Homo sapiens: one gene and its partners. The protein of the gene in region 2 interacts with the protein of the main gene of each other region in a pairwise test. Each region holds a gene or a part of one and is shown on either strand. Other genes may lie near its edges.

Region 1 (3,653 bases), on a different chromosome or scaffold from region 2:
CCACGCTTGGCCTATGACCAGATTTTAAACAGAAGACTGTCTCAAACCTTAAGTTCTCTCTAAACAGAATCAAAACACTGAGCTAAGGCTTTGAAAAGTGTTTAAGATGCTTTTGAGAGAACTTGGTATTTTCATGTTTGTCAAACAAGTTTGTGTGAATGAGCTTAGAATGTCCCTAAATGATTTTTTTTTTTTTCAGCTGAGGTGTGGTCCATGAGAGAATCAAGGCTCTTCTCACAGTCTGTGATAAAAATAATTAAGGCTTGTGGTACTTCTCTTTTTTAGAGTTGATACGATCCATCCCCAGATAATATGCATATCATTGTTTGAGGCTGTCCATGAATTGTTAGACAAGTTCAAATGATGCCCTAAATGTTATTTATATTCATTGGCTTTAAGGAAACAATTACCATCTTTTTTTGTTTGTTTGTTTATTTTGACACTGGGACTTGCTCTGTTGCCCAGGCTGGAGTGCAGTGGCAAGATCATTGCTCACCGCAGCCTTGAACTCCTGGGCTCAAGGGATCCTCCCACCTCAGCCTCCCAAGTAGCTGGGAGTACAGGCCAATTGCCATGTTTTCAATGTCTGTCCATTCCCTGTCTTTCTAGATGTTGCTGCTGAGGAGGAATGTAGATATTCAGGCCACTGCACGTTTGCTTATTGCCAAGAGGAGATAGATGTGTGGACACTGGAGCGGAAAGGAGCATTCAGCCGGGAGGCTTTCTTTGGCGGCAATGGAAAGATTAACCTTACTGTGTTCAAACTTCTCCAGGAGCATCTTGGGGAATTTATATTCCTTTGTGAGGTGTGTTCTCCAAAACTTATTTTCCACTGTAAAGTTGAATTTGCAAGCCCAGTGGTATTGTCCTGCCATGTGATAAAACATTCACTTGGTAAATGAATAAATATTCATTTATTTATATGATAAATAATATCATATTTATGAATAAAATATTCCTCTGGTCCTCCCATGTGATAAAACATTCATTCAGTAAATGTTGGCTATTACTGTTACCAAAAAGAATATTAAAACTTCATATTGAATATTAATTTTGTAATGATATTGAAACTAGGACAATATTCTGGGTACAAAATTTATATTTTGTATTTTTTTTGATAATCTTTCTCTCTCTATTCCAGAAATGTTTTGATCATAAGCCTAGAATGATAAGTAAAAGAAATAAAGATAATTCTACTGCTTGTTCTCACCCGGTTACAAAGCATGAGTTTGAAGACAATAAGTATGTTGATAGTTTCTAATTTCTGTAATGACAAAATAGATTCTTTTTCTAGATCTGAATAAAAACTAGTAGTAATGTCTGTCCAGGCATTGCCCTTTCATCGTTATGTTGTTATTTTGAAGAACAATGACAAAATTTTAAAATGTCTTTTAGTAGATTTGGCTGGAAAGTGAATAATTAACTAAATATATTATGTAAAACAGAAAAGCATTATTGATGTATAGTTTCTCATGACATGGATTTAGGTATTTTATGGCTTAAAATATAAGTACCCCCCCCAATTAATTCAACAATTGCATGTAGTGATTTGGTTTTTTTGTTTGTTTTTTTTGAGACAGAGTCTCGCTCTGTCACCCAGGCTGAAGTGCAGTGGCATGATCTTGGCTCACTGCAAGTTCTGCCTCCCAGATTCAAGTGAATCTCCTGCCTCAGCCTCTCGAGTAGCTGGGATTACAGACACCCACCACTAGGCCTGGCTAATTTTTTGTATTTTTTAATTTTTTTGAGACGAAGTCTTTTTCTGTTTCCCAGGCTGGAGTGCAGTGGCGCGATCTCAGCTCACTGCAACCTCCGCCTCCCGAGTTCAAGCGATTCTCCTGCCTCAGCCTCTCCAGTAGCTAGGATTACAGGCACGTGCCACCACACCCGTCTAATTTTTGCATTTTTAGTAGAGACAGGGTTTTACCATGTTGGCTGGGCTGGTCTTGAACTCCTGACCTCAAGTGATCCACCCGCCTTGGCCTCCCAAAGTGCTGGGATTATAGGAGTGAGCCATCACGCCTGGACAATTTTTTGTATTTTTAGTAGCAACAGGGTTTCAACATGTTGGCCAGGCTGGTTTCGAACTCTTGACCTCAGGTGATCCACCCGTCTTGGCCTCGCAAAGTGCTGAGATTACAGGTGTGAGCCACTGTGCCCAGCCCCCATGATTTTTTTTCCGATAAAAATTTAAAATGTAGGGCTGGGCTCCATGGCTCACGCCTATAATCCTAGCACTTTGGGAGGCCGAGGCAGGCGGATCACGAGGTCAGGAGATTGAGACCATCCTGGCTAACACGGTGAAACCCCGTCTCTATTAAAAATTAGCTGGGCGTGGTGGTGGGCGCCTGTAGTCCCAACTACTTAGGAGGCTGAGGCAGGAGAATGGTGTGAACCCGGAAGGCGGAGCTTGCAGTGAGCCGAGATCGCGCCACTGCACTCCAGCCTGGGCGATAGAGTGAGACTCCATCTCAAAAAAAAAAAAGAGAAAAAAAAATTTTAAATGTATTGTCAGTGTAGAACTTTATATATATATATATATATATATATATATATATATATATATATATATATATATATATATTTGAAAAATCTATGGCAGAACAATATTAAAATGTCACTGTTTTCATCTTAGGTGCCTTGTCCACATTTTGCGAGAGACAACAGTAAAATACTCCAAAATACGTTCTTTTCATGGTCAGTGTCAGCTTGATTTATGTCGACATGAAGTTCGGTATGGCTGTTTAAGGGAAGATGAGTGCTTTTATGCCCATAGTCTTGTGGAACTGAAAGTCTGGATAATGCAAAATGAAACAGGTAGGTTTGAGTGCGACTGAGAAGTATGTCTCCTCAAGAGCAGACAGGGTTTAATGAAACAGTAATTTGGGCCTGGCGTGGTGGCTCATGCCTGTAATCCCACTACTTTGGGAGGCTGAGGCAGATGGATCACTTGAGGTCAGGAGTTCAAGACCAGTCTGGCCAGTACGGCAAAATCCCCATCTCTACAAAAAATACAAAAATTAATCGGGCGTGGTGGTGGGCGCCTGTAATACCAGCTACTTGGGAGGCTGAGGCATGAGAATTGCTTAAACCTGGGAGGCAGAGGTTGCAGTGGGCCAGGATCACAACACTACGCTCCAGTCTGGGTGATAACATGAGACTGTCTCAAAAAAAAAAAAAACAAAAAGGAATTTGGAGACCTCCCCTTCTCCATCAACCAGATGTGGTGACGCTATTGATTTTGTCCTGAGCTTCAAACTTTTGATTTTTAGAGTTGCCTATTTTGAGTGTGTTCTCATGTCATTAATTACTGATACAAGTTGATACATGCAATTGTTGGGAGGAAAGATTCCTCAGAAGGCACAAAGAGCTGTATTTGTGTATATTCCATTTCAAAAAAGAGAAACGTGGTATTCATCCTTGCTGATGGATTAGGAGGTATGAGAATAGATTGGAAGCTGAAGGTTCTCCACGTCTGACTGCACCCAGATTGGTGGGCTGTTGTTCTTATAGATATAATTTAAAGGAAGGCTTGTACATTCCCCAGGTATCTCACATGATGCTATTGCTCAAGAGTCTAAACGATATTGGCAGAATTTGGAAGCAAATGTACCTGGAGCGCAGGTATTTTTCTCTTGTGTACTTTCTGCATT
Region 2 (3,653 bases):
CCACCGTGCCCAGCCCAATGAACGTTTTTGAGACAGGGTCTTGCTCTGTTGCCCAGGATGGAATGCATCCACACAATCATGGCTCATTGCAGCCTCAATCTCCTGAGCTCAAGCAATTGTCCCACCTCTACCTCCCATTTATGTAAATGTGTGGGTCTGTACTGAGTCTCAGTATCAATGAATTTTTTTTTTTAAATGTTGAAAGCCAGTAATATATGATGGCCTGAAGTGTTCCTAGAGTCAACTAAAGACTGAGTTTCTCTAGTTGACATGCAACAGAAGTTTGTTTACCGGAAGTATTGCAAATTTTATTGTCGCACTCCCTCTCTCCAAGAAGGAAGAGCCAACTGACTATTCCCATCAGCACGGCCTAAAGCAATCCTAATCAAGTTAATGCCACCCTAAATTAACCAAGAAAAGCCAAAGGGAAGACAGCAGATGCTTTAGGGACCAAGTTGTTAATTCAGAGATGCTCCTGTTTGGTTGGTTCTTTTCCCCTTGGACTAACTACTTTGAATATTTTGTCCACTTGCCTACCTCTAGAATTGGAAATTTTCCCTAGGGCCTTCCTCTGAGTCTGCTGGGGTTTTTTTAAGAGTTCTTAGAGTTCATCTTCTCAAAGACAACTCCAGCTCTCTATTTAGTCAATCTCTCTGATATACACACAATTTTACTTTCCAACATTCCAAGGAAACATAAATTAGAAATATACACATAAAATGACATCCACCCCTCTTCTCCCTGCAATAATATCTTTGTGATATTCCTACTATCTACTTAACTGGTGTGTTGCTTTCTCTCACCCACTTCCATTCATAAGCGCTGAGAGTTATCTGCTATCTCTCTCCATTCCTAATTCCTGGCCTGAGATCCGGGCTACAGATGCTACAAGTTGATGTGGGCTCTTCATGCTGAAGAATTCATGAGTACTTTCTGCTTAACTCCTCTATATTCTCAACCCGATCCCTTTGCTTTTTCTTTCCATAATAATCTGTTTTCTGATGGGTAATCCATCCAAACACTCATTTGCCCTTATGAAATTAGTGTTTTCTAGCTTTCCATTTGCGTGAAGGACCCCTAACATATGACTTCAACCTTCAATTTTATTTCCCCCAAACTACCCTTTCACACTATTAAAAATAATAATAAAAAATTGCCACAGAATCCAACTATAGCTTAAATTAAAGAACTCACCTGTCTTGAGAGTAAGTATGCTTCAATAGCTTATTCTTTTACTATCCTTTTAGTGTTTTCATTGTTCAATGCTAACCTGCCCTCCAACCATACCTTAATCAACGAATTACACATTTTAAATAACTACTAACACTATAACCTATTTGAGGAACAAGCCTATCTGGTAAAGTGTCTCACTCCAGCAGTGATATTCTGTCCTCTCTTTGACAAGTATTAAATATATTTTCATGCTGCCCACCTGTCTATCATAGAGACCCACCTCCCTTCTATGAAGGTTCCACCTGGTGAAGAGCCCATGTTTTCTGGTCATTTACCTTTCTACCTATCAAAGCTGGACTATTATGTGGTCATTTTTCTCTCAGCTAGCAGTTCCCCTATAAAAAATCCAATAAATTCGGCTGCGCGGTAACTCAAGCCTGTAATCCCAGCACTTTGGGAGGCCAAGGCGGGTGGATCACGAGGTCATGAGATCGAGACCATCCTGGCTAACACGGTAAAACCCCATCTCTACTAAAAATACAAAAAAGTTAACCTGGTGTGGTGGCAGGCGCCTGCAGTCCCAGCTACTCAGGAGGGTGAGGCAGGATAATGGCGTGAACCTGGGAGGCGGAGCTCGCAGTGAGCCGAGATTGTGCCACTGCACTCCAGCCTGGGCAACAGAGCAAGATTCCACCTCAAAAAAAATAATAAAATAATAAAATAAATCCAACAAATTCCATCTAACCAAAATGCTAATTAATGATCATTTAATAAAGGAGTCCCCAACTCCTTTACAGCACAATACAGTGGACCAGTACTGGTCCATGGCCTGTTAGGAACCAGGCAACACAGCAGGAGGTGAGCTATACGCGAGCATTACCGCCCTTGCTCTGGGCTCCAGCTCCTGTCAGATCATCAGTAGCATTAGATTCTCATAGGAGTGCGAACCCTATTGTGCTGTGCATGCAAGGAATCTAGGTTGCACGCTCCTTATGATAATCTAACTATTGCCTGATGATCTGAGGTGGAAGTTTCATCCTGAAACCATTTCGCCCCCAACCAAACCATCTGTGCAAAAATTGTTTCCCACGAGACTGGTCCCTGGTGCCAAAATGGTTGGGGATCTATGATTTAATGAATTTCCCTTCCCAGAGGGAAATCCTTTTAATAACGACTTTGGCCAGCTTGGGCAACATGGCAAGACCTCATCTCTACAAATTAAAAAAAAAAAAAATTAGGTATGGTGGTGCGTGCTTGTGGTCCCAGCTAATCAGGGAGGCTGAGGTGAGAGGATCACCTGAGCACAGGGAGGTCAAGGCTGCAGTGAGCCATGATTGTGCCACTGCACTCCAGCCAGGGCGATAGAGTAAGACCCAATCTCAAAAAAAAAAAAAAAGTTAAAAAGAAAAAAAAGGACTTCTGAAGACCTCAGTGACAAGTATGTTAACGAAATCTAAGGAATCTAAAAACTACTCTGGTACCTCAAGTTGGTGACATGGGTGACCACATCTATTGCCTATGTTTAACACAAACCTTGTTAAGGAGACCAAATCAATGAATATGAGGGTGAGAGGTGCCTTAAAAATCATCTAGGTCTCTGAGTCATGATTCTTGAACTGGGCTACACACTGGAATCTCCAACTCCCAGAGGAGAAGAAGATGCCCAAAGAAGCAAATTTCAAAGTCAGTGACAAGGCCAGGCCTAATACCCATGCCTAACATTATGTGTTGATATGTGTACATACATACATATATATATACACACACATACATACACACACACACATACACACACACATATATATGTAACATACTAAAAATATAAAGGCATGTATGGGAAGGACAAATATCCAATTCATGTCAGTGATTACCTTTTGGGGGATGGGAAGGGAGTGTAATTGAGAAGAAATACACATGGTGGCTTCAAATGTATTGGTAATATTTTTATTAATATTTCTTAAACTGGATGGTAATACCTAAGTATCTATTAAATTAGGCTCTGTTCTTTTTTCTTTTTGTTTTGTTTTTATTTTTATTTTTGTTTCTTTGAGACAGGGTCTCACTTTGTCATCCAGGATAGAGTGCAGTGGCACAATCATAGCTCACTGAAACCTCCCACTGCTGGGCTCAAGCAATCCTCCCACCTCAGCCCCACAAAGTGCTGAGATTACAAGGCGTGCACCATCGCAGTAGGCCCTCATTATCTTCTGGATATCTAAAATTTTGTAATAAAATAGAATAAAAAGATGGTATATAATCAAATGTATATCACATTAGGAATTCAGTGAAATATCTCAGGCTAGAAAGTACTCAGAAAACATACTTGATGAGGTAGGCTTTGATGGAAGAATAAAACATAGATTATTCTTCAGGCAAAAAGTAACACAAACTTTTCTAAAGGAAAAATGTGAATAAAGGTAAAGCTGGGAGTACCCACAGCCTATAACATAAATAAAGAACAACGGGGGCCAGGCACGGTG
Region 3 (3,653 bases), on a different chromosome or scaffold from region 2:
GAGTGGCCGCTTTGGGGAACTACTCCCTTCCCTGCTTGGCCGCGCCGCGCCCTCCCTGCATTTCTGGGGCTCTGTCCTCTAGACCCTGGGACTCGGCGTTTAGGGAGGAACAGGCGCTCCATTCCTAGACCCAGCCATTTTCCACCGAAAGCCCAGCCCTGCCGCCGGGCGGCCTGGGAGTTTGGCCTTCTCCCCAGCGCAGGACGCCCGTGGGGCAAGGCCAGGGCTGCATCCCTGTGCTGGGGCAGCCGGCGGCCGCGGATCTTTGTTCTATAAATAGCCCCGTCCCACTCCCACCCCCACCTCCACCCCCACCCTGCCGCCATTCTGGGCTTAATGGCCCGTTTCGCGCCAGGTCCCTTCGGCGGCCGCAGCGCTCGGCTTCTGCAGCCGTCATTGTCATGCAGCCAGCCGGGCAGGCAGAACTGAGCGAGCCCTGGGCAGCCGAGGACAGGGTAGGGGCAGGCTCTGGGCGACGGCTCCTTACCAGCGGCGCCTGGCCTGCTGAGGGTGGGGGGCAGCCCTCATTCACCCCCATCCTGCCCCCTGCTGTCCCCTGCTCCTCTGGCTGCAGGCGCTCCACTTCCGCGGGAATAAAAGGTCTAAGTGCTTCTTATGGGGACATACCCGACGAGTTCAGAAAGGCTAAAGAGGCGGGAAAGAGTGGGGCTTCGCTGGGTCCGGAAATAGGGAAGCCGGAGTTGGCCTCCACTCCCCCTCCCCCACTGTCAGCCGAAGCTAGGAGGGAGAGCTCCTGGGGGCTACAGTCCTCAGAGAGTTTCCTCCCTGTGTCTGCTCCCCACAACCCATGGTAGTCTGTTGAGGAGAAATTGCCTTGGGCTAAAATGCCCCGCTTTTGGGGCCACAGGTTAGGAGGCTTCCCATTAGGTTTGATTGTGAAAGAAAACAAAACACCAAGATTTATTTTCCACACCTTGAGACAACTTTGGCTTTCCATTTTAATCTAGTGGAGGCAGAGTGCAGTCTTTTGTGTTGGCCCTGGGTCCACAGCTCCCTGCCTGCCTACACACACACACACACACACACACACACACACACACACACACCCCTCCCTTCATCCCTGGAGGGATGGACCTGGAGGGTCCCTTCTTGACTTGACACCATCCAGGTTGGTTTACCCTTTCACATTAAGAGAGCAGAGGAACTCATGGTCCTCTTCCCACTTCCAAACCCACTGCCCTGGATGACTCTCAGAAGCACCCTCAGTGCCTTGCCAAAATTCAACCCCCACCCACTCTCCCCCTGCCCTTCCCCAAAATCCACAGAATGAAGCTGCAAGGAAGGCCCTGGGCCCCACTAGTGGTAGCCCTGAAGGCAGAATTAGCTCTGGAGGCAGAATCCCCCAGGGAGAGTAATCAGCTAGAAGAAACCCATGGTCTTGCCAAGAGCTGGAGAGTGCTGCAGGCATGGTGGCATGACCTAAATACGATGAGTTGCAGGGATCCCTAAGTTCTGGCTCCAGGCTCTGCTAACTTCCCAGGGTGTCCTTGGGCTTCCATCACTTATCTCTTGCTGCCAACTACAGCCCCTGAGCTGTTTTATTTAGCCTACACTCGTGTGTGTGTGTGTGTGTGTGTATGTATGTGTGTGTAATTTTGTATCAAGTGCCAAACCTTAAAAATAGAGAGATTTCAAGTGCTCTCTTTTTCTGGTTTCTCTTGAAAAAACTTGGGGGTGGGCAATGGGGAGGGAAACATGGCAGGTGCTGTTAGCCCAAGAAAATCAGAAAAAGAAGTCATGGTGGCTCACATCTGTAATCCCAACACTTTGGGAGGCCAAGGTGGTAGGATCATTTGAGGCCAGGAGTTTGAGACTAGCCTGAGCAGCATAGGGAGACCCCATCTCTACAAAAACTTTCAAAAAATTAGCCAGGTGTGGTGGCCACATAGCTGCAGTCCTAGCTACTCAGGAGGATGAGGCAGGAGGATCGCTTGAGCCCAGGAGTTTGAAATTACAATGAGCTATGATGGCGCCACTACACTCCAGTCTGGACAACAGCAATACAGTATGACCCTGTCTCAAAAACAAACAAACAAATGAAAAAGAGCCCCTCCGTCTATGCATATGCAATTCCATGCCATAGCTTGGTGAACAGAGAATGTGCTGGGCTTCAGCTCCCACGTGCCCTGTTGGCCATAGGTGTTTATGCCATACACAGCTCAAAGCCCCACTTGGCAACAACTGGCTGGAGCCAGGTGCTTTCTAGCTACACATACCTGTGCGCACATGCACGCACACATACACATACACACTCTCTCACTGGGCCCCATAAGCCTTTGAGTTTGGCAGCAGGGGTGAGGAACCTGCAGCAGGAGCTCCCCTCAGCTCAGAGGTGGAGTCATGATTTTTCTCCCCTTGCGGCTGGCCAGTGTGCTAGCACCCAACCAAACACAACTGCAGCTTTGCCTCTCCTCTGCTTTCCTCTTTGCCTCTAAGAATGTAGAGCTCTGTGACCAGTTACCCACAGGCTTAAACTAGGTCCTCGAAGCTGGGGTGTAGAGCAAGAGGGAGTACACTCGGCTTCATTCTCTGGGACCCCTTCTTACAGGACCCCTTGCTAGCCAGGGAAATTGTCAAGGCACTGACCTCCATGTCATCCACCACCTCTTCATCCTTGGAGAAGCAGTTCCTTCCAGGGCCTCTCAGAGCCAAGGGAGGCCTGGTTCACCTACCTTTCTGAGGATCCCAGTATTTTAGAGAACAAACACCTTCCTAAACAAAGTGAAAGACATGTGACAATATATATTATATGTTTATATTAGCAAATTAATTGTTTTAACATAAATTATAATGCAGTGTAAGTGTGCTATTCATAAAATAATTACAGGATTTAGAGAGGATTCTGATTCCTAGTACATTACTGGAAGTGCAGCCCAAGGAATGGGATGCAGGTTTAAAGCCGTGTCGTAGGGCCGGGCGCAGTGGCTCGCACCTGTAATCCCAGCACTTTGGGAGGCCGAGACAGGTGGATCACCTGAGGTCAGGAGTTTGAGACCAGCCTGACCAACATGGCGAAACCCCCATCTCTACTAAAAATACAAAAATTAGCCAGACGTGGTGGTAGGCACCTGTAATCCCAACTACTTGGGAGGCTGAGGCAAGAGAATCACTTGAACTTGGGAGCTGGAGGTTGTGGTGAGCCGAGATCATGCCACTGCACTCCAGCCTGGGTGACAGAGCAAGACTCCGTCTCAAAAAAAAAAAAAAAAAGCTGTGGCATAACGATCGTTTCTCAGCCTCATGAGCGCATCTCTGGGAGAGCCTGTGTCAAAACCTCAAGCCGAGTTTCTGCTTCCTGCAGCTGCCCAGAGGGAAGGGGCTTCAAGGTGGGGAGACTCAGGGAGTGAGTCAGAAGCCTAAGCAGGCGTCGGGGACAACAGAGTGGAGGTTCAGCTGGGCAGGACCTCACTACATGAGGCCACATGGGTTTGGTCTTTCAAGTCTGGCAAATTCCACAGCTCAATGTTCTGGGATGAGAGGAGCAGTCTCAGAGTTCAGGTGCCATCTGATCCTGCATCCCTCTGGCAAATGAGTGCTGGCTCCTGGCTCTGGACTTTGAGGATTTGGAGGAGGAATTCAGGAAGTAGGCAAAGAGATATGGAAAAGGATACAATCCCATCTTTATACCCAAG

The links.
Region 1: the proteins of STK3 (region 2) and ZC3H7A interact in a two-hybrid assay, tested with the Homo sapiens proteins (one large-scale study listed by BioGRID and IntAct).
Region 3: the proteins of STK3 (region 2) and GAD1 interact in binary tests that used the Homo sapiens proteins (3 or more experiments, as listed by UniProt).

The regions. Positions count from the first base shown.
Region 1 is NC_000016.10:11,762,642-11,766,294, reverse strand, and holds part of ZC3H7A (zinc finger CCCH domain-containing protein 7A), read left to right. Parts: intron 1-609; coding exon 610-806; intron 807-1,141; coding exon 1,142-1,242; intron 1,243-2,635; coding exon 2,636-2,817; intron 2,818-3,547; coding exon 3,548-3,624; intron 3,625-3,653. UniProt on the Homo sapiens protein: May be a specific regulator of miRNA biogenesis. Binds to microRNAs MIR7-1, MIR16-2 and MIR29A hairpins recognizing the 3'-ATA(A/T)-5' motif in the apical loop.
Region 2 is NC_000008.11:98,819,108-98,822,760, forward strand, and holds part of STK3 (serine/threonine-protein kinase 3), read right to left. Parts: intron 1-3,653. UniProt on the Homo sapiens protein: Stress-activated, pro-apoptotic kinase which, following caspase-cleavage, enters the nucleus and induces chromatin condensation followed by internucleosomal DNA fragmentation.
Region 3 is NC_000002.12:170,823,354-170,827,006, forward strand, and holds part of GAD1 (glutamate decarboxylase 1), read left to right. Parts: intron 1-3,653.